Linked DNA regions of Homo sapiens. The protein of the gene in region 1 purifies or fractionates together with the protein of each later gene. This does not show direct contact. Each region holds a gene or a part of one and is shown in the gene's direction. Other genes may lie near its edges.

What was found.
Region 2: the proteins of FLCN (region 1) and RAB7B purify together in Homo sapiens (affinity purification with western blotting, with the first as the bait; one study listed by BioGRID). This does not show direct contact.
Region 3: the proteins of FLCN (region 1) and RAB3B purify together in Homo sapiens (affinity purification with mass spectrometry, with the first as the bait; one study listed by BioGRID). This does not show direct contact.
Region 4: the proteins of FLCN (region 1) and BTBD1 purify together in Homo sapiens (affinity purification with mass spectrometry; one large-scale study listed by BioGRID and IntAct). This does not show direct contact.
Region 5: the proteins of FLCN (region 1) and RABL3 purify together in Homo sapiens (affinity purification with mass spectrometry, with the first as the bait; one study listed by BioGRID). This does not show direct contact.
Region 6: the proteins of FLCN (region 1) and RAB35 purify together in Homo sapiens (affinity purification with western blotting; one study listed by BioGRID). This does not show direct contact.
Region 7: the proteins of FLCN (region 1) and RAB11FIP1 purify together in Homo sapiens (affinity purification with mass spectrometry, with the first as the bait; one study listed by BioGRID). This does not show direct contact.

What each region holds. Positions count from the first base shown.
Region 1 is NC_000017.11:17,230,669-17,234,168, reverse strand, and holds part of FLCN (folliculin), read left to right. Parts: intron 1-1,267; 5' UTR 1,268-1,381; intron 1,382-2,286; 5' UTR 2,287-2,375; intron 2,376-3,500. UniProt on the Homo sapiens protein: Multi-functional protein, involved in both the cellular response to amino acid availability and in the regulation of glycolysis.
Region 2 is NC_000001.11:205,979,396-205,982,895, reverse strand, and holds part of RAB7B (ras-related protein Rab-7b), read left to right. Parts: intron 1-3,500. UniProt on the Homo sapiens protein: Controls vesicular trafficking from endosomes to the trans-Golgi network (TGN). Acts as a negative regulator of TLR9 signaling and can suppress TLR9-triggered TNFA, IL6, and IFNB production in macrophages by promoting TLR9 lysosomal degradation.
Region 3 is NC_000001.11:51,984,201-51,987,700, reverse strand, and holds part of RAB3B (ras-related protein Rab-3B), read left to right. Parts: intron 1-3,500. UniProt on the Homo sapiens protein: The small GTPases Rab are key regulators of intracellular membrane trafficking, from the formation of transport vesicles to their fusion with membranes.
Region 4 is NC_000015.10:83,039,753-83,043,252, reverse strand, and holds part of BTBD1 (BTB/POZ domain-containing protein 1), read left to right. Parts: intron 1-1,327; coding exon 1,328-1,525; intron 1,526-3,500.
Region 5 is NC_000003.12:120,701,017-120,704,516, reverse strand, and holds part of RABL3 (rab-like protein 3), read left to right. Parts: intron 1-3,500. UniProt on the Homo sapiens protein: Required for KRAS signaling regulation and modulation of cell proliferation. Regulator of KRAS prenylation, and probably prenylation of other small GTPases. Required for lymphocyte development and function. Not required for myeloid cell development.
Region 6 is NC_000012.12:120,099,754-120,103,253, reverse strand, and holds part of RAB35 (ras-related protein Rab-35), read left to right. Parts: intron 1-3,500. UniProt on the Homo sapiens protein: The small GTPases Rab are key regulators of intracellular membrane trafficking, from the formation of transport vesicles to their fusion with membranes.
Region 7 is NC_000008.11:37,871,998-37,875,497, reverse strand, and holds part of RAB11FIP1 (rab11 family-interacting protein 1), read left to right. Parts: intron 1-175; coding exon 176-983; intron 984-2,318; coding exon 2,319-3,500. UniProt on the Homo sapiens protein: A Rab11 effector protein involved in the endosomal recycling process. Also involved in controlling membrane trafficking along the phagocytic pathway and in phagocytosis. Interaction with RAB14 may function in the process of neurite formation.

The sequences.
Region 1 (3,500 bases):
GGAAGTGGCTTGTCAGCGTTGCCTCTGGTTTCCCTCTCCTGCTTGAGAAGGAAACTGCCAGGCCTATGGCCTGAAAAGTAAGTTGGTGTGATGTAGATGCTGCCAGAGCACCCCCTTATAACCAAGAGTAAGAAAGATGGGGACTTGGCTGGATGCAGTGGCTCATGCCTGTAATCCTAGCACTTAGGGAGGCTGAGGTAGGTGGATCACCTGAGGTCGGGAGTTCGAGACCAGCCTGGCCAACATGGTGAAACTCTGTCTCTACTAAAATACAAAAATTAGCCAGGTGTGGTGGCAGACACCTGTAATCCCAGCTACTCAGGAGGCTGAGGCAGGAGAATCACTTAAACCTGGGAGGCAGAGGTTGCAGTGAGCTGAGATCACGCCATTGCACTCCAGCCTGGGTGACAAGAGTGAAACTTGGTCTCAAAAAAAAAAAAAAAAAAAAAAAAGGAAAGATGGGAACTTGCAGCCTTGACCTCCCAGGCTGAAGTGACCTCCCAACTTAGTCCCCCAAGTAACTTGGACTAGAGGCATGCCCGGCTAATTTTTTTTTTTTTTTTTTTTTTTGAGATGGAGTCTTGCTGTGTCGCCCAGGCTGGAGTGCAGTGCCGTGATCTTGGCTCACTGCAAGCTCTGCGTCTCAGGTTCACGCCATTCTCCTGCCTCAGCCTCCCGAGTAGCTGGGACTATAGGCGCCTGTCACCATGCCTGGCTGATTTTTTTTGTATTTTTAGTAGAGATGGGGTTTCACCATGTTAGCCAGGATGGTCTCGATCTCCTGACCTCCTGATCTGCCCACCTCGGCCTCCCAAAGTGCCGGGGTTACAGGCGTGAGCCACCGCGCCCGGCCTGGCTAATTTTTTTTAAAAATTTTTTGTAGAGACAGGGTCTCACTGTGTTACCCAGGCTGGTCTCAAACTCATGGGCTGAAGCAATCCTCCTGCCTTGGCCTCCCGAAGTGTTGGGATTACAAGCATGAGCCACTGAGCTGGCCTCAAGACCCTATCTCTAAAAAAATAAATACAGAGATCCTTGATCAAATACTGGTTTAGAGTGCCTCAGAGGTGCAAGAGTTCAGCTAAAATGTCAGCTCCTGCTGAGAAGGTCAGAGGCCTGCTAAGCCATTCAGAACCCTGGGGAGTGTCTACATCCTCATCAGACACGTTCTTATTTGAGACTGGCTGTAAGCTGCTCCCATTATTTTTCATGCTACGAAGGCCTCTAATCTTAGAAATAGCTCTAATTTTTTTTTTCTCTTACCTAGAAAACGCCAGGTCTTCAAGGGTGTCTGCCACCACCATGCCTGACCCATTTGGCAGCAGCCTCGTGTGTGGTGGTCTGGTGTGGACGGTGGAAGCGTGATTCTGCTGAGTGTCAGGTTAGTGTGGGTGCTCTGCAGGTGGGCTGAGACTTGGCCCAGGCTTGCTGTCCTGTGCATGTCTTGCTAGAAGGAACCTTATTTCTCTTCCCCTGATGCCTCTCAGAGAAAGGCGTGGCCTTCCTTTTCGCAGTTTAATGCCTTTACCTTTCCTTTGGGTCCTGCTACCCCTTACTCCATCAGTGGTCGCCCCATCTCCTGTTGAGCAGTAGATTTTTAAGCCACTCATCATAGTGAACCCTGTGGGCCCTTTATTGAAACTGTCTGTTTGGTTCCTGTGCCACTAGACTCTGGCTCCGGCCTTCCCCACAGCTGTGGCTCCTGAACCTCTGCCGCCCCTAGATTCCGCCCCTTTCTTGGCAACAGCTGTCATCTTTCCAAGGGCGACTTCTCAGTCCTCTCATTTATCTAACACGTGAATGTGGCGCTTCCTGTGTGTCAGGAAGGCACTTTGGAGGCGCAGTTCTGCGATGAGGAGCGCTACGACTCAAAGCAGGGCAGGGGAGGGTGTCGGGGTGGAGGGGAGCTCTTCTGGTGGGCTGGCAAGGGGTACTCTGAGCAGGGGAGCAAGTGGAGGCCGAGTGGTGAGGAGTGAGCCAGGTGACGGTGTGTGGAGCATTCCTGACCTTTGTCCCCAGCCCTGCCCTCTCCTGTCCTGCAGCCTGCATCTTTGCTGAGTTCTCAGGGCCTTCCAGCTAGAAGTTCTGCCATCTGTTAAATGCGTATGTTTCCTCTCCCGCTGCCTGTCTGCCTCCCTCTCGGAGTGCACCTACAGAGCACTAGCCCTCCATTCCCTGCCAGCCACACCCAGGGTCTCCCTCTCTGACTCCCACACCTGCCTCACTGCCAGCCCAGCTAAGGTTCTCTTCAAATGTCTGTTTTCTGTCTGCCTCTGCCATTCCCAGTGTGACCACTCGTGCTCAGCCGTATCTCAGCAGGAGGACAGGTGCCGGAGCAGCTCGTGCAGCTAAGCAGCCAACTGCAGAAACGTCAGGTGGGTGGTGCATTCGCAGGCATGCTGAAGAAGCAGTTCCAGGCATGGGCCGCCGGCAGAGAGGCTGGCTGCAGCACCCCCCACCACCATGCACATCGTCCTTTGCTTCTTCCTAGAGTTAGCGGCTTTGGCAGGCCATGCCTTGTTTGTGTTCACAGCCTGCCTGTCAGGAGCGAAGACAGAACGTCTGACTTTTGGATCCGTAACAGGGGTGGGGGCTCCCCAGAAGAGAAGAGGCTTTGGGTCCTGGCCAGTGTCCACTACTCAGTCAAACATTCAGAAACTTACATGATTCTTCATCGTCCCAAGCAAGTCTGACTTGGGCCCTTTATTGAAACTCTGTTTCCTCTCCCGCTGCCTGTCTGCCTCCCTCTCGGAGTGCACCTACTGAGCACCAGCCCTCCATTCCCTGCCAGCCACACCCAGAAAGCAATGGGGCTTTCTGGGAAGGCAGAAATATTCTGTGACCTGGGCTATTCAGAGGGGTGGCGTGAGTCGTGTGTGCCTAGCAAACACTCAGGACATGGCCGGTGAGACAGAAGGGCTGAGCTTTTGTCCTAGCTAATATATTAATTAATTAATTCATTATTTATTTTGAGACGGAGTCTCTCTGTCGCCCAGGCTGGACTGCAGTTGCGCAGTCTTGGCTCACTGCAACCTTCGCCTCCTAGGTTCAAGCAATTCTCCCGCCTCAGCCTCTTGAGTAGCTGGGACTACAGGTGTGCGCCACCATGCCTGGCTAATTTTTTTTGTACTTGTAGTAGAAATGGGGTTTTGCCATGTTGGCCAGGCTGGTCTTGAACTCCTGACCTCAAGTGATCTGCCCACCTCGGCCTCCCAAAGTGCTGGGATTACAGGCATGAACAACCGCACTCAGCCTATTTATTTAATTTTTTCGAGACGAAGTCTCACTCACTCTGTCACCCAGGCTGGAATGTAGTAGTACGATCTCAGCTCACTGCAACCTCCACCTCCCAGGTTCGAGCGATTCTCCTGCCTAGGCCTCCCAAGTAGTTGGGACTACAAGCGTGCGCCACCACTCCAGGCTACTTTTTTTTTTTTTTTTTTGAGATGGAGTCTCGCCCTGTCATAAAGGCTGGAGTGCAGTGACCTAGTCTTGGCTCA
Region 2 (3,500 bases), on another chromosome or scaffold:
TTAAGATGAAACAGAAGTTTACAAATACAGATTTTGAGGTCAAAGAAAAGTTTTCAGAGGCATTTCCTATAAGGAACTTGCCTTCCTTCCCAGGGAGATTGTGGGCTCATTTGCTCCAGCCCAGGGTGTTTTGAGAGGAGAATGTGGGAGGCGCTTCTATAATAAGGAGTGAGCCCCCAGCTGGGGTGGAAAGAGCTGGGCCTCTGAAGTCGGAACGATCTGGCTTTATACTCAGCTCTACCTCTCATTGTGTGTCCCTGAGCAAGTCATGAAGCCTCTCTAAGCCACCACTTCCCTAACTTTAAAGTACAGATAATAATATCTTCCCTATGAGGTTACTGTGAGGGTTAAATAAAATGCTATTGTAGTGCAGAGAGGGCATTACATGCTGTTTTAAAATGGAGCTGCATCATAGGGTTTTCAGCAAGGGAGCTTCGTGCTGCCGAGAGGATGAGCGCCATGGGTGATGATGAAGAGGCTACTGCAATAGTCCAGGTGTGAGAGGATAGAGCTGGCAAGGTGAGGGTGAATTAAAGAGACTTTGGAGGTAGAAACATCAGGAGCTGATGATGATCAAATGCAGGGAGAAAGGAACAGGAGCAGTTTAGGCTGATGACCAGGTTTCTAGCTTGGCAAATGAAGGGACAATGGATTAGTGATTCCATGAGCCAAGCAATACGGGGAACAAAGGAGAAAGCAGGAGCTTCATGAGAGAAAGGGATAATGACGTCCATGTGAGCACATTGCATTCAAGGATCCTCGAGACACCAGGTGGAAACGTCTGAGTTCTGCAAGTGAGCCTTGTAGTAAAGAGAGCAATATGTGAGGCACCTGCTGAGAGCAGAGTAGGTGTTCAGTTAACATACTGAAAGAGACCGGAGTAGGTGTTAACATTGTGAAAGAAACCAGAGTAGGTGTTCAGCTAACATTCTGAAAGAAACCAGAGTAGGTGTTCGGTTAACATTGTGAAGGAAATCACAGTAGGTTTTCAATTAACATTGTGAAAGAAATCAGAGTAGGTGTTCAGTTAATATTCTGAAAGAGACCACAGTAGGAGTTCAGTTAACATTGTGAAAGAAACCAGAGTAGGTGTTCAGTTAACATTCTGAAGGAGACCACAGTAGGTGTTCAGCTAACATTCTGAAAGAAACCAGAGTAGGTGTTCAGTTAACATTGTGAAGGAAATCACAGTAGGTGTTCAGTTAACATTGTGAAAGAAACCAGAGTAGGTGTTCAGTTAATATTCTGAAAGAGACCACAGTAGGTGTTCAGTTAACATTGTGAAAGAAACCAGAGTAGGTGTTCAGTTAACATTCTGAAAGAGACCACAGTAGGAGTTCAGTTAACATTGTGAAAGAAACCAGAGTAGGTGTTCAGTTAACATTGTGAAAGAAATCACAGTAGGTGTTCAGTTAACATTGTGAAAGAAATCAGAGTAGGTGTTCAGTTAATTATCTGAAAGAGACCAGAGTAGGTGTTCAGTTAACATTCTGAAAGAGAACAGAGTAGGTGTTCAGTTAACATTCTGAAAGGAAAGGTAGATTACTTTAGTAACCAATTTAGCCACATTCAAGGATTAGGTATTTAGTTGTTCCAAAATATGACGAAGGATGCCCTAATAATTAAAGAAGAGATATCCACCAGCTTTGGAAGATATGGGGTGGTGAGGTTTTGCTCCAGAAAGTTAGCAATGCTGGCTGGGCATGGTGGCTCACACCTGTAATCCCAGCATTTTGGGATTACATCCGGCAAGGCAGATGGATTGTTTGAGCCCATGAGTTCCAGACCAGCCTGGGTGAAACCCCATCTCTACTAAAAATATAAAAAACTAGGTGGGCATGGTGGCACATGCCTGTAGTCCCAGCTACTTGGGAGGCTAAGGTGGGAGGATCACCTGAGCCCAGGAAGTCAGGCCATGGTGAGCCATGATTGTGCCACTGCACTCCAGCCTGGGCCACAGGAGTGAGACCCTGTCAAAGAAAGGAAGAAAGGGGAAGGGGAAGCGGAGGAGGTGAAGGGGAAGGGGGAGGGGAAGGGGAGGAAAGGGGAGGGAAAGGGGGAGGGGAAGGGGAGGGAGGGGGAGGGGAAGGAAAAATTAGCAATACCATCCCTGCTGGGGCTTTTCAGGCCCAGCTCCAGTAGCATGAGATATTGCCTAGAGGCCCAGTTCTTTTGGGGTTAATTGGAAAAAGACAGAATCACCACATCCAGTGGAGGGAAGTGGGCTGGCTGGCAGCTGCTCAGTGAATCACAGCAGCTTTACATGGTCCTCAGGATGCAGGACTTAAGGCAAGGCCACTGAGGTGGCCAGACTGGGGGAACAGAGACAGACTCCCACAGTCACACCCCCACTGAAATGCTGCAAGCATTGGAATAGTGTTGTATTACTTGTACAGTTAGATTCACAAGTTGTCAAGAGGCCTGGGGCCTGGAGAACAGAATGACATAGAAACCTAATTATGGCCTGGAGGTTTTGCAGGAAATCTGAGGAACAAGATGCTGCCATTGTCAAGTGAAAATGATGTCATTAACGGAAAGAGCTCAGCGATGACTTGCACCCGGGGAGGGTGCAGATGTCATTAGGGCAACACTAGCATGAAAACCTCAGGCTTTGCCCATGCAACAAATGAGGACATTTCTCACACCTACCCCAGATGGTGCTCACTCTGCTAGTCCCAAGATCCTACCAGGGTGGGGGGTGAGAGATGGGGGATCCCCAAGAAACCAACTCCGTGACGAAGGGCTGGACCCAGGTTCAGCACCACAAGCTCTGTGCCATCGGGGTACATTACTGCTCAGTCTGGGGGTGGCAGTGAGTGATGGGGTGTCAGAGGATCTTCTTATGTATTTGGGGGCACCACCATCATCAAGGTGCAGGAGGCAAGGCTGGACACCACCTCCTGAGGTCTAGGGTCATGAGCATTAAGGATTTGGTGGATATTCACCAGCTGGGTGTCTGGCCTGAGCCTGGGAACTGCCGGGGAGATAAAATCAGAGACAAGGAGGCAGCACCCCTGTCCCTGGAAGTTGCCCCCTGAGAAGGACACTTGAGATGGACTGCCAGGGACAATTTTGCGTGATACACAGGATGCTCTGCCCCTGCTCAGGTCCATGCCAATGTAGCACAAACCCCTTCCACGTAGAGTGAATGCTCATCACTCACCCCGAGGCCCACAGTACTGGCTGTGGGAGGAACATGAACGCGATTGAGCTCTGTGACTAGCAGAGGCCATAGCAGCGTGAAGAGATGGGATCCCTTGAAGAAGAAAGTCTTCAGCCTGAGGAACCCATCTGCTTAAAGAAGGGCCCCCTCCTCCATACCACCCCAACCCCTGAACTGGGGAGGGGGGGCAGGCTCTTGGTGAGAAGTGGAGCCAGCTGGAAAGGCAGAAGCTTGGCAGACCGAGAAGGGGCTTCCTCTGGACCCTTGTTGGGACAAGAGAGACTGGAGAAGCAAAAGGGCCCGGGAGAAACATTGAGTCCATTTTAGGGAGGGCTGC
Region 3 (3,500 bases), on another chromosome or scaffold:
GTATAACCCACATTACCTATAATTTTCCCAACAACACTTGTTTTATGAATGAGGAAACTGTCTTAATCATGTAACATTTCTTGCCAAGGTCTCATAGGTAATAAATGATAGACCTGGAAACTGAATCTAGTTTGTTTGATTTGGAGCTCCAAACTATTTCCACTACACAGGATGACTTGCTAGAAGAAACCATGAAGCACAGAGACAAACAAACAAACAAAATAAGGGGTTAATAAAACACCCTCCCATATACAGGTTTTAATTCTTGCAACAGTTTTGCCAGGAAGCCATTTTATGAGCTCCTTTTATAGATAAGGAAACTGAGGCCAGGGGTGTGATTTGCCTAAGTTTACAGGATCACTGAAAGAGCCAGGGCTTATCTTTCAAATGCCAGGTCTCTTGGACTCAGTCTCATGTTCTTTGCAACAAAAGGTAAGTTCCTTCATTCACTTCTTCACTCCATTTATTGAGCTGATCTCTTCTCGCTGGATTTTAGGGCTCTCTCCTCCTCCTCCCCGCTCTTTCCTGGCTGAAGTTGGCTTCTTCCTTAGGTGCTTATTTCTGCCGCCTATCAGACTGAAAGGGTTGTTTTTCACAGCCACCCTTTGAGGAGTCATTTCTTTCCCCCAGCCTGGGACAGGGACGACTTCCCAGATGGTCCCTGGGCCTTCATCTGTATTGCTTGTCACGGAGATAGCTCTATCATTTTATGTGACTGTCACAAAATAGAGGAAAGATTTGATTGATGCTTATCTTACAAATGCAATTCTGCATGCACCACTGTGCATGACCTGTCTGCTTAGATCTGCCTCAGGCAGCTGCCTGCTGGGATGCTTTTTGCCTGTCTTCCAAATGTCTGAGTAGCCCCTGGCCGCCCCCTCCTAAGAAGATCCCCTTGGGGGCTTCCATCTGAATGAGCCTTCCAACTGAACTCAGCTCTCTGCCTCTCCCCGTTCTCACACCACCTACTGGGAAAGCCATGCTGTGTGTGCATAAGCAGATGTTAACAGTGTGGTATGGCAAGTACAGTACGGTAGCAGGACACTCAGGATGTTGGGTATGCTTCTTTTTTTTAATTTTTATTTTTAGAGATAGGGTCTCACTCTGTCACCCAGGTTGGGATACAGTGGTGCAATCATAGCTCACTCTAACCTCGAACCTCTGGACTCAAGTGATTTTCCAGCCTCAGCCTCCCAAGTACCGAGGACTACAGGTGCACACCACCACATCCGACTAATTTAAACTTTTTTTGGCTGGGCGCGGTGGCTCACGCCTGTAATCCCAGCACTTTGGGAGGCCGAGGCAGGCGGATCACAAGGTCAGGAGACCGAGACCATCCTGGCTAACACGGTGAAACCCCATCTCTAGTAAAAATACAAAAAATTAGCCGGGTATGGTGGCGGGTGTCTGTAGTCCCAGCTACTCGGGAGGCTGAGGCAGGAGAATGGCGTGAACCCGGGAGGCGGAGCTTGCAGTGAGCTGAGATCGCGCCACTGCCCTCCAGCCTGGGCGACAGAGTGAGACTCTGCCTCAAAAAAAAAAAAAAAAAAAAAATTCGTAGAAATGGAATCTCACTATGTTTCCCAGGCTGGTTTTGAACTCCTGGCCTCAAGTGATTTTCCCATTTTGGCATCCCAAAGTGTTGGGATTACAGGCATGAGCCACCATGCCCAGCCAGGATGCTTCTTTATTCACCCTAAAATTGTTGTGGTTTTCGTTTTCCTTAATCCCGTCAAACCTGGAAGCCATTAGGTAACAGAAGTTCCATTCATGACCCTCCAACTGACTTGCTGTGTGAGCTTGGACAAATCACTTGTCTTTGCAGAGCCTCAATTTTTTTTTTTTTTTTTTACCTGTAAGATAAACGGAGGTAGATCAGGAACTGAAACAATTTTTTACTCTTGCCATCACTTCCTAGTCTCCTATCTGTGGCAGTCACAGCTAATAAAGGCAGGCAAATTTCTCACTGATTCTACACGAGGCTACATGTATTTTTCTCAGCACAGTGTATGAAACATACTTATATACGTTCTCTTATTTAAAATTCACAGCACCTCGTGAAGTAAGTATTATTGTCAGATGAGGACACTGAGGCATAGAATTTAAGTAACTAGGCCAAGTTTACACACTGAGTTACTGGGAAAGCTGGGCCCAGTAGCCAGGCTTTTTGTTACAATAAAAAGCTGCTACTCCAAAGTCCCCTCTAATTCTAGCAGTTTAAGAGTGTGAAGCTGGGCTACATCAGAAAAGTGAAAACCAGTAATCTGACATTTACACTGATAGTCTGGCACTTGAAAAATGCTCTATATGTGTTTCTTGAAAGACATAACACCCTCTAAGGATTTACTGTAGGTCTAGCGTTGACCAGATGTAAGGATGGATAAAGCCCCCTTGAATCCAGAAGAGAGAGCAAACAGTTAATTGTAAAACAGGCCCAAATAATGGAGCCACAATCAGGGAGAGGGCAGTTGAACAAGATTTGCCTGCAGAAGTGAATTAAAGGGGCCAGTGAAATAATATGTATTCAGTACCTCCATGGGCCGAGAAACTGTGTCAGATTGTTTACGTATAGTACTACTCTTTCTATTTGTACCAAGCTCTGTGAAGTAGGTGGTATTTTCTCTATTTTAAGGTAAAAGTGCTGTGGCTTAGAGAGGCAATATGACTTACCTAAGAATTCATCTGAGGGTAGAGCATTGATTTTAAACTTTTTCATAACACTGCAGGGTACTAAGTCTAGTCTCGGCTGTTAGCTATGAGATTTGGGCAAATCCTTTTAATTTCTCATTTTCAGTTTCCTTCTTGATCAAATGGAAATAATAATCCACGTCTTTCCAGCTTTATTTCCCAGGTTTATTTAGAGATAAAAGAAGATAAAGGATATGAAATTGTGGTAAAGATCACATTTATGTTTTAGTAGTGACTCTTTGACCAGCAATTCCACTTCAAGGAATCTCTCTCAAGGAAGTAATTAGGAAAATGTACAAAAATTTATGTAAAGAAATGTTCACTGCAGTTTCATGTATAATAATTAAGAGTAGAAAAACAACTTAAAAACAACTTCCTAAAGAGAGTGACAACATTAAATAATTGATCTGGCTGGGCCAACATGGTGAAACCCCATCTCTATTAAAAATACAAAAATTAGCCGGTGTGATGGTGAGCACCTGTAGTCCCAGCTACTTGGGAGGCTGAGGCAGGAGAATCGCTTGAACCCAGGAGTTGGAGGTTGCAGTGAGCCAAGATTGTGCCATTGCACTCCAGCCAGGGTGACAGAGCAAGACTCTGTCTCAAAAAAAAAAAAAAAAAAAAAGAATTGGTCTTATGACACATCTATAGGATGGAATATAATGTAGTCAACTGAAATGATGTTTTTTTAGAGTTTTCAAAGTCTCGTTCATGCTTTTTTTTTTTTTTTTTTTTTTTTTTTTTTTTTTAATTAGAGAGTCTCCACTGTTGCCTGGGCTGGAGTGCAGTGGCACAATCTCCGCTCACTGTAA
Region 4 (3,500 bases), on another chromosome or scaffold:
GAATACTATTCCTCTAGGTATCTATTTGGCTTACTCCCCCACTTCCTTCATGTCTTGGCATAAGTGAAGCCTGCCTAAACCACCCGATTTTATTTTATTTTATTATTTTTTGGCACAGTCTCACTCTGTTGCCTGGGCTGGAGTACAATGGCATGATCATGGCTCACTGCAGCCTGCAACCTCCCAGGCTCGAGTGATCCTGCTGTCTCAGCCTCCTGAGTAGCTGAGACTACAAGTGCATGCCACCATGCCTGGCTAATTTTTAAAAACTTTTTTGTAGAGATGGGGTCTCACTATATTGCCCAGGCTGGCCTGAAACTCCTGGGCTCAAGCCATGCTCCTGTCTCAGCCTCTTAAATTGCTGGGACTACTGGCATGGGTCACCATGCCTGGCCCCTTCCTATTTTAAACTGCATTTCTGATTCTCCTTAACCTGACATATTTGCCCATGTATATCATCTAAGATACTCGAATTTACTTGTGTTTATTTAATCTGTTTCTCCTCATTAGAATGTAAGCTCCATGAGGGCAGGAATTTTTAACTTTTTGTTCAGTGATATATCAGTGCTGGCTGGGCGCGGTGGCTCACGCCTGTAATCCCAGCACTTTGGAAGGCCGAGGCAGGCAGATCACTTCAGGTCGGAAGTTTGAGACCAGGCTGGCCAACATGGTGAAACCCTGTCTCTACTAAAAATATAAAAATTAGCCAGGTGTGGTGGCCCGTGCCAGTAATCCAAGCTACCCAGGAGGCTGAGGCAGGAGAATTGCTTGAACCTAGGAGGCAGAGGTTGCATTGAGCCGAGATTGTGCCTCTGCACTCCAGCCTGAGCAACAGAATGAGACTCTATGACTCTATATCCAAAATATATACATACATATATATATATATATATATATATATATAAAATTGCCTAATAGTACCTGGCACGTAGTGCTTAATAATAAATATTTACTGAATGAACGAATGAATTATAATCTGTAGACTTTAAGAATTTATGTAATTGGAACCTTTTTCTGTGGCTTGTTAATCTTATTCTGGATAGTTGAGTTTACTTGATAAATGGCATAAATATATAAGGAGAGTACTGTATCTTAATATTGCATGTATGGTAAGTAATAAATTGATTGTTAAACTGATTTTTATGGAACACTTTGGAGTTTAAGTCCTTTAATTATTTAGTATTTTAAAGTATAAAGTCTGTAGTTTTAAGTGTCTAACCTATTTTTTGTTGAGATCTGAAAACTTAATATAAGTGTGTCTGTTGGTATTGCTTGGTTAGAGAGCTAAAATATTTCTAATTGGGTTTATTTTGTATTTTGCCTATAGATACACTCTGTGCAGTTTTAGAGAGAGACACACTCAGTATTCGAGAAAGTCGACTTTTTGGAGCTGTTGTACGCTGGGCAGAAGCAGAATGTCAGAGACAACAATTACCTGTGACTTTTGGGAATAAACAAAAAGTTCTAGGAAAAGCACTTTCCTTAATCCGGTTCCCACTGATGACAATTGAGGAATTTGCAGCAGGTAAGGGTATAAATTCACCAAAATCTATTTGAAACTGTTTTAATAGTCTGTCAGGGCTGGGCCTGGTGGCTCACACCTATAATCCCAGCACTTTCGAGAGGCCAAGGCAGGTGGATCACTTGAGGACAGGAGTTCGACACCAGCCTTGTCAACATGGTAAAACCCCGTCTCTACTAAAAGTACAAAAAATTAGGCATGGTGGTGGGCACCTGTAATCTCAGCTACTCAGGAGGCTGAGGCAGGAGAATCGCTTGAACCCAGGAGACGGAGGTTGCAGTGAGCCGAGATCATGCCGTTGCATTCCAGCCCGGGCGACAGAGCGAGATTCCACGAGACTCCATCTCAAAAAAAAAAAAAAATTCTATCAGTCTCCCTGCGCCAGAGAGGAAAAGAAGCTTTTATTCAGTACTAATCACATGACAAACATATATGCGAGTGTATGATTTTAAGCCCTTCAAAATTATATTATCCACATTGTATAGGTTAGAGAAGTAAAGTTGGGAGAGGTTGAGTGCCTTACCCCAGGTTATGACAGATCTTTTTGGCTTTTTTTTTTTTTCTTTTTTTTCTTTTTTTGAGACAGAGTCTTCCTCTGTTACCCAGGCTGGAGTGCCGTGGCACAAACGCATTTCACTGAAGCCTCCACCTCCCAGGCTCAATCAATCCTCCCACCTCAGCCTCCCAAATAGCAGGGACTATAGGTGCACACTACCATGCTCAGCTAATTTTTTAATTTTTTTTATAGAGACAGGATTTCACCATCCTGTCAGGGCTGGTCTTGAACTCCTGGGCTCAAGCCTCCCAAAGTGCTGGGATTACAGGTGTAAGCCACCACGCCCAGCCTCTGTTTGACTCTTAAGGTCGATGCTTCTGATTAAAATCAGACAGATCTGTTTTGAGTCTCCATGACCACTTCTGACCTGTTTTCATTACCCAGGTCATAATTGACTATTATCTGCCTTTAAATCACGGCCAGATTGATTCAAAAGAAAGAAAAGTCTCATGGTTTTTTTTTTTTTTTTTTTTTTGAGACAGGGTCTCCCTCTGTTGCTCAGGCTGGAGTGCGGTCGTGCGATCTCAGCTCACCGCAACGTCCATCTCCTGGGTTCAAGCGATTCTCACACCTCAGCCTCCTGAGTAGCTGGGATTACAGGCGTGCACCGCCACAAACTAATTTTTGTATTTTTAGTAGAGACAGAGTTTCACCATATTTGTCAAGCTGGTCTTGAACTCCTGACCTCAGGTGATCTGCCCACCTCGGGCTCCCAAAGTGCTGGGATTATAGGCATGAGCCACTGTGCCTAGCTCTCATGATTTTTTAAAAAATAATTTCAACTTTTATTTTAAATTCGGGGTAACGTGCAGATTTGTTTCATGTGTATATTGTGTGATGCTGAAGTTTGAGGTACAGTTGATTGCATCACTTAGGCAGTGAGCATAGTGTCCAGTAGTTAGTTTTTTAACTCTTTTCCCCCTTCTGTCCCTTCCTCTTTTCCCCTTTTTAACAGTCCTCAGTGCTTATTGTTTCCATCTTTATGTCCATGTGTATCCAATGTTTAGCTTCCACAAGTGAGAACATACGGTATTTGGTTTACTGTTTCTGCATTAACTCACTTAAGATAATGGCTTCTAGCTGCATCCATGTTGCTGCGAAAGGCATGATTTTGTTCTTTTTTATGGCTTTATAGTATTCTGTGGTGTGTGTGTGTCCGTGTGTGTGTGTGTGTGTGTGTGTGTGTGTGTCACATTCTCTACCCAGTCTACCACTGATGGGCACCCAGGTTGAGTCAGTGTCGTTGCTGTGATGAACATATGAGTGCATGTGTCTTTTGGTGGAACATTTTCTTTTCTTTTGGATATATAACCAGTAATGGGATTGCTGGGTTGACTGGTAGTTCTATGTTTTTTGGTTTTTTTGGGAGGTTGTTTGTGGTTTTTTTTTTTTTTTTTGAGACAGAGCCTCACTCTGTCACCC
Region 5 (3,500 bases), on another chromosome or scaffold:
ATGTCTTACTCCAATCTTAGGGGGAAAGCATTCATTTCACTATTAAGTATGATGTCAGCTTTAGGTTTTTTTTGTTGACATCATTTATCAGGTTGAGAACATTTCTTTCTATCCCTAATTTGCTGATAGTTTTGTTAATATCATGAACAGATACTGAATTCTGTCAAAAGCCTTTTCTGCATCAATTGATATGGACATGTGGCTGCTTCTTTAGGCTGTCAGTATGGTGGATTACGTTCACTGATTTTCAATACTGGTGGATTACATTCACTGATTTTCAAATATTGAACCAGCCTTCCATTCCTTGGTCATGGTGTATTATTCATTTTATGTGTTGCTGGATTTGATTTGCTAATATTTTGTTGAGGATTTTTATCCATGTTCATGACAGGCATTGGTGTGTAGTTTTCTGTTCTCATAATGTCTTTGACTGGTTTTGGTGTGAGGATAATGTTGGCCTCATAGAATTAATTGGAAGTATTCCTTCCTCTTCTATTTTTTGGAAGAAATTGAGTATATTTGGTGTTATTTCTTCTTTGAAGGTTTGGTAGAATTTACCAAGAGACCATCTGGGCCTGGAGGTTTCTTATTTGAAAGGTTTTTAACCACAAAGTCAACTTCTTTAGTAATTAGGATTGTTCAAGTTATTTATTTCATCTTGGATGAGTTTTTGTAATTTGTGATTTTCAAGGAATTCCATCTATTTCATTAAATTTTTTAATGTATATCAATAGAGTTGTTTATAGTATTTGTTTATTGTCCTTTTGATAGTTGCACAGTTTGTAGTGATATGACCTTTTTCATTCTGATTTTGGTATTTTATGTCTTCTCTTTTTCTTGTCAGACTTGTAGAGGTTTATCAATTGTATTGATTTTTTTCCAAAGAAGCAACTTTTGGTTTCATTGATTTTTCTCTATTGTTTTTCCATATACAGTTTAATTGATTTCTACTCTTATTTCTTTCCTTCTGCTTGCTTTTGGTTTATTTTGTTCTCTATAGCTTCTTAGATTACTTACTGGATACCTTGCATTTTTGCCAATACAAGTATTTTAATGCTATAAATTTCCCTCTAAACACTGCTTTAGCTGCATCCTGCAAATGTTTAAATGTATTACTTTTATTTTCATTTAGTTCAAAATATTTTCTAATACTCCTTGAGATTTTCCCATAGGCTGTTTAGAAATGTGTTGTTTAGTTTCCATGTATTTAGAGGCTTTCCAGTTATTTTTTGCTATTGACTTCTAGCTTAATTTTATTATGATCCAAGAACATACTTTATATGATTTCACTTATTTTATATTTGTGCAACACCCGGTATGTGACCTGGGTGTTGTTGTCTCTGTTGTTTCAGTTTTCAGTGTCTTTGGTACACTAAGTAGGATCAAATCCATGCATGCACAGCTTTGGCAATGAGCTCAAGCATTCACGAACTACTTCATGGGGTTGCTTTCTCACACTTCACCCTGTCTACAGTCTCTGCCATACTTTGTGATTTGCTGGGGCTCCCTTTTTCGGTCCCCAGGCCAAATTTTCTCATGCACTTGCACAACTGCACCTATGTCCAGGGCCAAGTGGTAGAAGGACAAAGAATAAAAGCAATGGGAGTTTGCCCCACTGTCTTGAGATACAGTTCCATCAGTCAGAAAAATTTCCCTTCTGGGCCCGGCGCGGTGGCTCACGCCTGTAATCTCAGCACTTTGGGAGGCCAAGGCGGGCGGATCATGAGGTCAGGAGATCGAGACCATCCTGGCTAACATGGTGAAACCCTGTCTCTACTAAAAATACAAAAGATTAGCCAGGCGTTGTGGCGGGCGCCTGTAGTCCCAGCTACTTGGGAGGCTGAGGCAGGAGAATGGCATGAACCTGGGAGACGGAGCTTGCAGTGAGCCGAGATCACGCCACTGCACCCCAGCTTGGGCAACAGAGTGAGACTCCGTCTCAAAAAAAAAAAAAAAGAAAAATTTCCCTTCCTCTGTATTTGTAAGCAGGCGTTCCCAACCCCTGGTCCATGGCCTGTTAGGAACCAGGCCACACAGTGGGAGGTGAGTGGCAGGTGAGTGAGCATTACCATCTGAGCTCCACCTCCTGTCAGATTAGCAGAGGCATTAGATTCTCATAGGAGCGTGAATCCTATTGTGAACTGTGCATGTGAGGGATCTAGGTTGCAGGCTTCTTATGATAATCTAACTAATGCCTGATGATCTGAGGTGGAACAGCTTCATCCTGAAACCATCCCCCAAACACCTGTCCATGGAAAAATTGTCTGCCATGAAACTAGTCTCTGGTACCAAAAAGGTTGGGGACTGTTGTTTTTGAGCATTCTGCTTGTGTTATAGCCTTTGCCACAACTGTCATGAAATTGCTCAGAAGCTGGCTTACAACAGAAGGAAAAATATTGTATTTCTACACTATCTCCAAGTATTCGTGTGTCCCCTTTCTTGTTTCATGAGCCAGAACTATAGGCCTTCTTCTGGAGTATTCTGTTCACACTTTTGGGTTTTAAGCTGAGTTGCATTCAGACAAGGGGATATGGAAGGAAACTGCTAATTCAATGGTTCTTCACATTGCAGTCTTCCTTAATATGCTCACTATTAATTTTTCAGAGTCCTCAAATAGCCACTTCATGTATCCTGTCCAGGTTTTATAGTTGCATTCACTGGGAAAGACAGGATAGAGTTTGCTTATTCTGTCTTACCTAGAACAGAACCCCATTTTCTATCTTTTGATTGAAGCAAGTCTTTCAAAGGCTTTGTTTTCTGTGTGGAAGTCTAATTGTTATGTGAAACCTAAATATAGTATAAGTTTGAGTATATATATGTAGATTCCAGCAAGACCTAATAAAGAATAAGCACAACTAATTTAAAACCTATATTTCAAAGCCTCATTGATATTTATTTCCTATCTCAATTCCTTTCATCACTGATGTCTTCATTAACCTAGCTTGTTCTCTATTTTCTACTAAAATTTCTACTTAAGAAACTTATCCTTAAATTTAGGGTTAGGAGACAGCATATTCATATCAGAAAGAAATCTGCATTTTTGTCAGGGAATTCAGTAAAAGTTCTATACCCATTTGCATTTTGACACTACAGTTTCATTTTGATTCTATAGATAAACCTGCAAATGTATAAAACAACCTTAATACATTGGTGTGCTTTGTTGGTGCATTATTGTATAGCATCAAAAAATTTGGAAACAACCCTAGTGTCCGAGCAACGAAAGATTCATTGAATAAATAATGGCATATCCACATACTGGAGTAGTATTCAATGTTTAAAAAAGAATCAGGAAGATCTCTATGAACTAAAATAGAAAGATCTACAGAGGGTACATTATTAGGTTTAACAAATCAAAATGCAGAGAATATATATCGTATACCTCCTATTGTATAAGAAAGAAAAGAAATAATATGTATTTATATTTGGATAAAGAATCAGTGAAAAATAAGAAACTAATAAAAATGGTAACCTATAGGGGGCCAGGGGAGATGGGTGGATGG
Region 6 (3,500 bases), on another chromosome or scaffold:
GGGGGGAAGCTGGGCTCCTGCGCAGATGGGCAGTGTCCTTCGGAGCGGCTCCTGGTTATTGGGTTGTTAGTGGAGCAGGTTTTAGGAAAGAGCAGGGTCTGAAGGGGCCGATTTGGAGCTGTTGGGCTGTGTGTCCTTAGGCAAGTTGCCGAAGCTCTCTGCGCTCGTTTCCTGGAGGGCCTGCCTCTGGGATTGGCTTCCATGTGGAGGGTGCCAGGTGCTCTGCTGCAGGCGTCAACGTGCGTGCCGGGGTGTGGTGTCTGGCAGCTCTGTGTGCTTGGTGCTGCTGTCATCCCATTTGACAGAGGGCGCCCTGGAGGGGTCCCTCCCAGCGGCCAAGCCTGTGCTCCACACAGTGGCCTGTGCAGAGTGAGGGGCGGCTGTCTGGCTCCACGGGCACCTCCTTGGCTCTCTCGAGCAGCTCCTCTGGAAGTGACCTCAGGAAGGCGAATGAGGAAGTCCCAGCCAGCGGCCCCCTTCCTTCCCACAGCATGAAAGCCCGGCACTCCCCAGGCTGGCTGCCCCTGCCCCCGGGCCCCTCGGCATCTCCCGAGGGTGGGAAGTGTGGGGTGCAGCGCCCCCATGGATGGCTGGGAGTATGGGGGAGAGCAGGGCTGCTGGAGAGGGACAGGTGTGCTGGGCGAGCAGCTCCTGGGGCTGGAGCCAAGGCGGAGGGCTTGTCACTGGGTTCACCCTATGCTGAGCACATTTGTGCTGTGGCCCGTGATGCCCGGAATCCCTGGGAGCTCCCAGTCCCGGGGTCGCCCTGGTGTGGTGCTGTGTGGTGACCGTTGATGAGCCCTGTGAGCGAGGGCTCTGTGGCCTGCATGTCTTGGCAGCTGCCAGTGAGAATCTGCGGAGGACACTGGGGCAGGGCTGGCATCAGTGCTTTGGGCAGCCTGGGGCTGCAGGCCCAGGCGAGGCAAGCCCTCATGCCGTTGGCTGGTCTGGGCGCTGACCTCATGAATCCTTGCTCTGGGTTGGTCCTGTCGCTAGGATTTCAGCTGCTTTATTTTGGTTAATCCCGGTAGAGAGACCTGTGACTATCTCCATTTTATGGACAGGAAAACAGGCCCAGGGAGGATGAAGCCTCCTAACTCAGTGGGGCAGAGGTTGGGGGCACTCAGGGTTGGCCCTGAGTCTGCCGAGGCCCTGCATCGACTGGGCAGGTGGCGCCCCTGCCTTCCTGCCCCGTCCTGTGCCTTAAAACCAGGCGGAGGTTCAGGGTGGCAGAGGTTCAGAGGCCCGTGGCCATGAGGAATGAACTCCTGGGCAGGGCAGTGGGGCCTGGGGGGTCCGAGGCTCTTTCAGCAGGAGGAGCCACAGCCCCTCCCTGCCATCATGCAGTCAGCTGCTTTCTGGGCTGGGCAGAGCGGGAAGAAGGTGAACTGGTTCCTCCATTCCGTGGGGAGGCGGGGAGGAGTCACTCAGCTTCCTGGGAGCAACATGGGTTTTTCCCCAGGGGCTTGGGAAGGGGCGGCCTGTGGGCAGCGGCTGGGCCCCTGCTGCCGTCCCACGTGTCTGGGGAAGCAGACAGGTGGCTCCATCTTAGAGTCCCGCTCTGGCCCTCATGAGGCAGGAGGCCCAGCAGGGCGCCCTGAGGGGCCACTGGAAGTCTCGACGCCCTTTGATGGTCACTGGCAAAGAAGGAAGGAGTTTTGGGGAGGTGAGGAGTTTTCAGGAATAGGGCAGTCAGGATGCAGTAGCGTGACTTTTTTCCGATGCAGGGCGTTCAGAGAGAAACTGAAACTGCATCCTGTTAGCCTGGCGAGAAAAAGCCTTGTGGTCACCCCTTCTCGGGTTCTTGCTCTCAGAAGCTGAGGTTTGCCGGCCCTGAGAGGTGCGGGTGGGATGGAGGTGAGGGGAGAAGTGACAAGGAAGGCAAGGCCCTGGCGTTGGGCCTGGGAGTCAGCCCTGGGCGCCAGGACTTCCAGCTGGCCGCTGCACTCAGCCTCACGTCCTTGCTGGTCACATGGCCATCCTGAGGTCTGCTGGATCAGGTGGCTGCAGACATTAATAAGGTAATGGATACCAAGCCCCCAGCTCTGTGCCTGGCCTAGAGCAGAGTCCCTGTGAGTGAAGGTGATTCCTGGTGGCCATGGGAAACGTCGGTGCTCCGGTTCCTCCTAGCCAGAGCTCTGAGCCCCTGACTTCATCCCCAGACAAATTCTCTGCTCTCAGATAAAGCCCCTTTCCTGGGCCCCGGATGAGGCAGAGGCGCCCAGGGAGCCGCGGGGGCTGTGCGCCGGGGCCATGGCTGCAGGCGTTTCTTGGCATCTCTGATCATCTTCAGCAAAGGAGAGTCTGCAGAGCCATCCGCTCCTTGGGCTTCCTCTGCTGGCAGGGGACAGTCGCCTGTTCCTGTGGCTCCGGCGCGCCCTCGCTCTGGAAGGCGTCTGACACACCATGCCATGTGCTGACCCGGCGCTCTCAGCAGCAGCTGCCAAGGCCAGAGCTAGTTCTTGGGCCCAGTGCCAAGAGAGCTTGATCGTCACAGCTACCCCGAAGCCAAGGAGCGACGCTGCCCTGGAAGCAAAGCTGTGGGCAGAATGAAGCCCTGGGAAGAGATCCCAGCGGTCGTGTTGAGGATGGAGCAAGGATGGGGCAGGGGCGGTGGCAGGGGCAGGTTGGGCTTTGTCCCAGGGCTGGGCAGGAGCTCTGGCTCTGCAGCATCAGGGAAGATGCTCAGGGCTGCCCCTAAGCTGCCTGTTGGTTTCCTTCCACCACCTCTGTCTGGGACCACAGATTGTCCTTGAAGGCACATTGATGATGCTGAAGAACGCATACTGACTGTTTACTGCTCCCCCGCCTTGGGGTAATGCTTAGCTCCTTTCTTCCTCATGACCACCCCAGTTAAGGACTAGCCACCTGTGTGCTATAACTGTTGAAGCTGCAAGGTGTGGCAGGGTGAATGCAGGCACCTTCCCAAGGGCCAGCCTTTCAGAGATGGAGCCAGGGTTGGTCTTTGTCCTTAGATCGGGCCTCAGATGTGAAGCATTGGCCAGAGAGCTGATGGGCAGGTGGACAGGAATGGAGCTGCAGCCACAAGTCAGCCTGGCTGCCCCATTCTTGCTCAGCCTGCGCTGACTTGGGCTGTTCCTGAACTGGGGCTTGGGCTGTCCCCATGAACCTCATGGGGGTGGAGGTAATTAGGGCTGGGGCAGGTGGCAGCCAGAAAGCCGGGAGGAAGCGGCCTGTCCACTCATGGTTTGTCTGTGTGCTGTCCTGAGGAGCCCTGGGGTGGAGGTCCCTGCGGCTTTGGGGAGAGGGGACAGAGGGACAGCTCTGGCTGATTGCACAGTGTGGGGCGGGGCTGCCGCCTGGCCTCCGGCTCTTCGACAGCTCTCGGGGAAGCGGAGGCTGTGGTCCCCCTCCTCCTCCGGGGATTGATGTCGTCCTGTGCCACTGGGATGAATGGGGACATGGGGTCTGGAGAGGAGAGTTGGGCCTCCCCTTCCTTCTGGCCTTCCTGGCTGGCCCTGGGCTCTGCATGTTTGGGG
Region 7 (3,500 bases), on another chromosome or scaffold:
ATACGTTGTAAGATGTTCAGTATCATCCTTGTCCTCTACCTGCTGGATACGAATAGCAGCACACCCCCTCCAAGTTGTGGCAACCAGAAATGTATCCAGACGTTGACAGATGCCCCTACACTGCAAACCACCCGTTTAACATCTTATCCCCTTTCTGTTCTTTTTCTTCCCAAAGTCATGTCTCACAAGAGAACAGCGAGTACGGATCTTAAGCAACTGAACCAGGTCAACTTTACCCTTCCCAAGAAGGAAGGACTTTCCTTTCTTGGTGGCCTTCGGTCTAAGAATGATGTCCTTTCCCGCTCTAATGTCTGCATCAATGGGAACCATGTTTACCTGGAGCAGCCAGAAGCCAAGGGTGAGATCAAGGATAGCAGCCCGTCCTCCTCCCCATCCCCCAAGGGCTTCAGAAAGAAGCATTTGTTCTCTTCTACAGAGAACCTGGCGGCTGGGTCTTGGAAGGAGCCTGCTGAAGGAGGTGGGCTGTCTTCTGACAGGCAGCTCTCCGAATCTTCCACCAAGGACTCCTTGAAGTCTATGACCCTGCCGTCCTACCGACCTGCCCCACTGGTCAGTGGGGACCTCAGGGAAAACATGGCCCCCGCAAACTCAGAGGCCACAAAAGAAGCTAAGGAGAGCAAGAAGCCAGAGAGCAGGAGGTCCTCTTTGCTGTCTCTGATGACGGGGAAGAAGGATGTGGCTAAGGGCAGTGAAGGTGAAAACCCTCTCACGGTCCCAGGGAGGGAGAAGGAAGGCATGCTGATGGGGGTTAAGCCGGGGGAGGACGCATCGGGGCCTGCTGAAGACCTTGTGAGAAGATCTGAGAAAGATACTGCAGCTGTTGTCTCCAGACAGGGCAGCTCCCTGAACCTCTTTGAAGATGTGCAGATCACAGAACCAGAAGCTGAGCCAGAGTCCAAGTCTGAACCGAGACCTCCAATTTCCTCTCCGAGGGCTCCCCAGACCAGAGCTGTCAAGCCCCGGTGAGTTTTGGCTCTTCTCGTGCAGGGCATTTCTGCCTTGCCATTGGTGGTTTTCAGGCTTACGTTAGACCAGCTCTTGTGGGTCCCATGATATCATAGTACCCATATATGCCAAAGGTTTGCTGGTCTAAATTATTTTTTTAACCAGTCCCTACTGCCAGCCTGGCCTGCCCTGTATAAATTGCAGTGATGTTTCCCAGCTCAGAGCTACTGCCCAGCAGGCATGGTCTGTCCTTTCAGTCAGCTTATCAGATCTCAGTGGAACGCAGTGGTTTGTAGCAGATTGTGGGTGTTGCAAGTTGGGAATACTGAGTTTGGGTTGTAGTGTATGCAGAACCTGTGTTTTCGAAGTTCTTATCTCACATTTCCCTTTGAGCCAGATGTTATCCTGCCTCCTTGCCTTTTGGCATTGGTTTCTGGTATGAGAGACCCTCGGTCCTCTCTCAAGTGACAGTGACGGTTCTTTGTGTCCACTCTGCCCCTTGTTGTAAGAGCCGGCATAAGCCTTGGGGACTGGCCTTGGGGACTTCTGCTTTTCTGTGTGATCACATTCATACTGACAATATTTCTGCGGTCTGGGGAGTGAGATTTTTTTTTTTAGAGATTCTGCTTACTTTGACATGCACACACACACACACACACATATACACACACATACACACTGTTCCTCTTAAACTTATCTGTGCCTGTTGCTTTGTGTTACATCTTTAACCACTTTAAACCTTTTAGGTGCATTTTGTCCTGTAATAATCAAATGCTCGGGCCTTGTGTTAATCACCACAAGAAACCAGAGGCTATTGCTTTACCGGGATCTTTTCATTTCTATTGCAACAGACTTTTGTGTGACGGATCTGCTTGGTTATAAAAGTGTCTGTTGTGTATGTTAAGTGTTAGTGTTCCTTTTTTTTTTTGAGACAGTCTCCCTCTATCGCCCAGGCTGGAGTGCAGTGGCACGATCTCAACTCACTGCAACCTCCACCTCCCAGGTTCAAGCAGTTCTCCTGCCTCAGCCTCCCGAGTAGCTGGGACTACAGGTGCACACCACCACACCCGGCTAATTTTTGCATTTTTCAGTAGAGATGAGGTTTCACCATGTTGGCTGGGCTGGTCTTGAACTCCTGACTTCAGGTGATCCGCCTGCCTCGGCCTCCCACAGTGCTGGGATTACAGGCGTGAGCCACCGCGCCCGGCTAGCGTTCCTTTTTTAACTTCTTAAGGTACTGCCCCACGTGTAAAGACGTTCTCCCCTGGTGAATGACTTGTTTTTGTGTATTTTCTTTGTCTCTCGTGATGCATCTGCACTGACCTGCAGATTTTATTTTGTCCTTTTTGCAGACTGGAAGTGTCTCCAGAGGCGCAACCCACAGCCAGGCTTCCTTCCCCTACTGACTCCCCTTCCTCTCTTCCTCCTCTTCCTTCTAGCTCTGGCCAGGCATCTGTCCCCTCTGAATTGGGACATGGTGCAGACACACAGTCCTCTGAGAGTCCTTCTGTCTTCTCCTCTCTCTCATCTCCCATAGCAGCTCCCATTTCCACATCCACTCCAATTGAAAGCTGGCCTCTCGTAGACAGGGGCCAGGCCAAGTCTGAAGGACCACCCTTGCTCCCTAAGGCAGAGTTGCAAACTGAGAGTTTAACACCGGTTCCAAATTCTGGTTCTTCTGCCCTGGGATCACTTTTCAAACAGCCATCCTTTCCAGCAAATAAAGGGACAGAAGATTCTCTGATGGGCAGGACCCGTGAGACAGGCACAGAGAAGAACACCAGCAGCCTTGAGTTGGAGGAGTCTCTCCCAGAGCAGCCTGAAACAGGGCGACAAGAGGAAGAACTTCCGAGATTCCCCTGCAAAAAACAAGACTACAGCCCATCATCTGGAGAAGCCCAGGAAGTACCGTTTGCCCTTTCACTCAGCAGTGATGGAGCTGTGAGCCCTGTTGGGGAGCTTGCAGCAGGAGGAGACAGAGACTTGGAGAGTCAGGCTGGGTCTCTTGTGGAGAGCAAAGCCAGGGATGCAGCTGAAGAAGTGGCGCCCCCTCTTCCCATGGGAGCATCAGTCCCTTCCATTGATTCCATGATGCGGAAGCTGGAAGAGATGGGTCTGAACCTCCGCAAGGACCAGAAGAAAACCAAGAAGCGTGTGTCATTTTCTGAGCAGCTCTTCACGGAAGAGGCAGTGGCGGGGGCTGCCTTGCTGGTGGAAGGACACAGCAGTTGTCCCCAGGAGCTGAACCCTGCATGGTCTGTTGCTGGAAACGCGTCTGACGGAGAGCCTCCTGAGTCTCCCCACGCAGAGGACTCAGAAAGGGAATCGGTGACCACACCTGGGCCAGCGACGTGTGGTGCGCCAGCCTCCCCAGCGGATCACCTCCTCCTCCCCTCCCAGGAGGAGAGTTTCTCCGAAGTCCCCATGAGTGAAGCAAGCTCAGCGAAAGACACTCCACTCTTTAGGATGGAGGGAGAGGATGCCCTTGTGACTCAGTATCAGAGCAAAGCCAGTGACCACGAAGGTTTATTGTC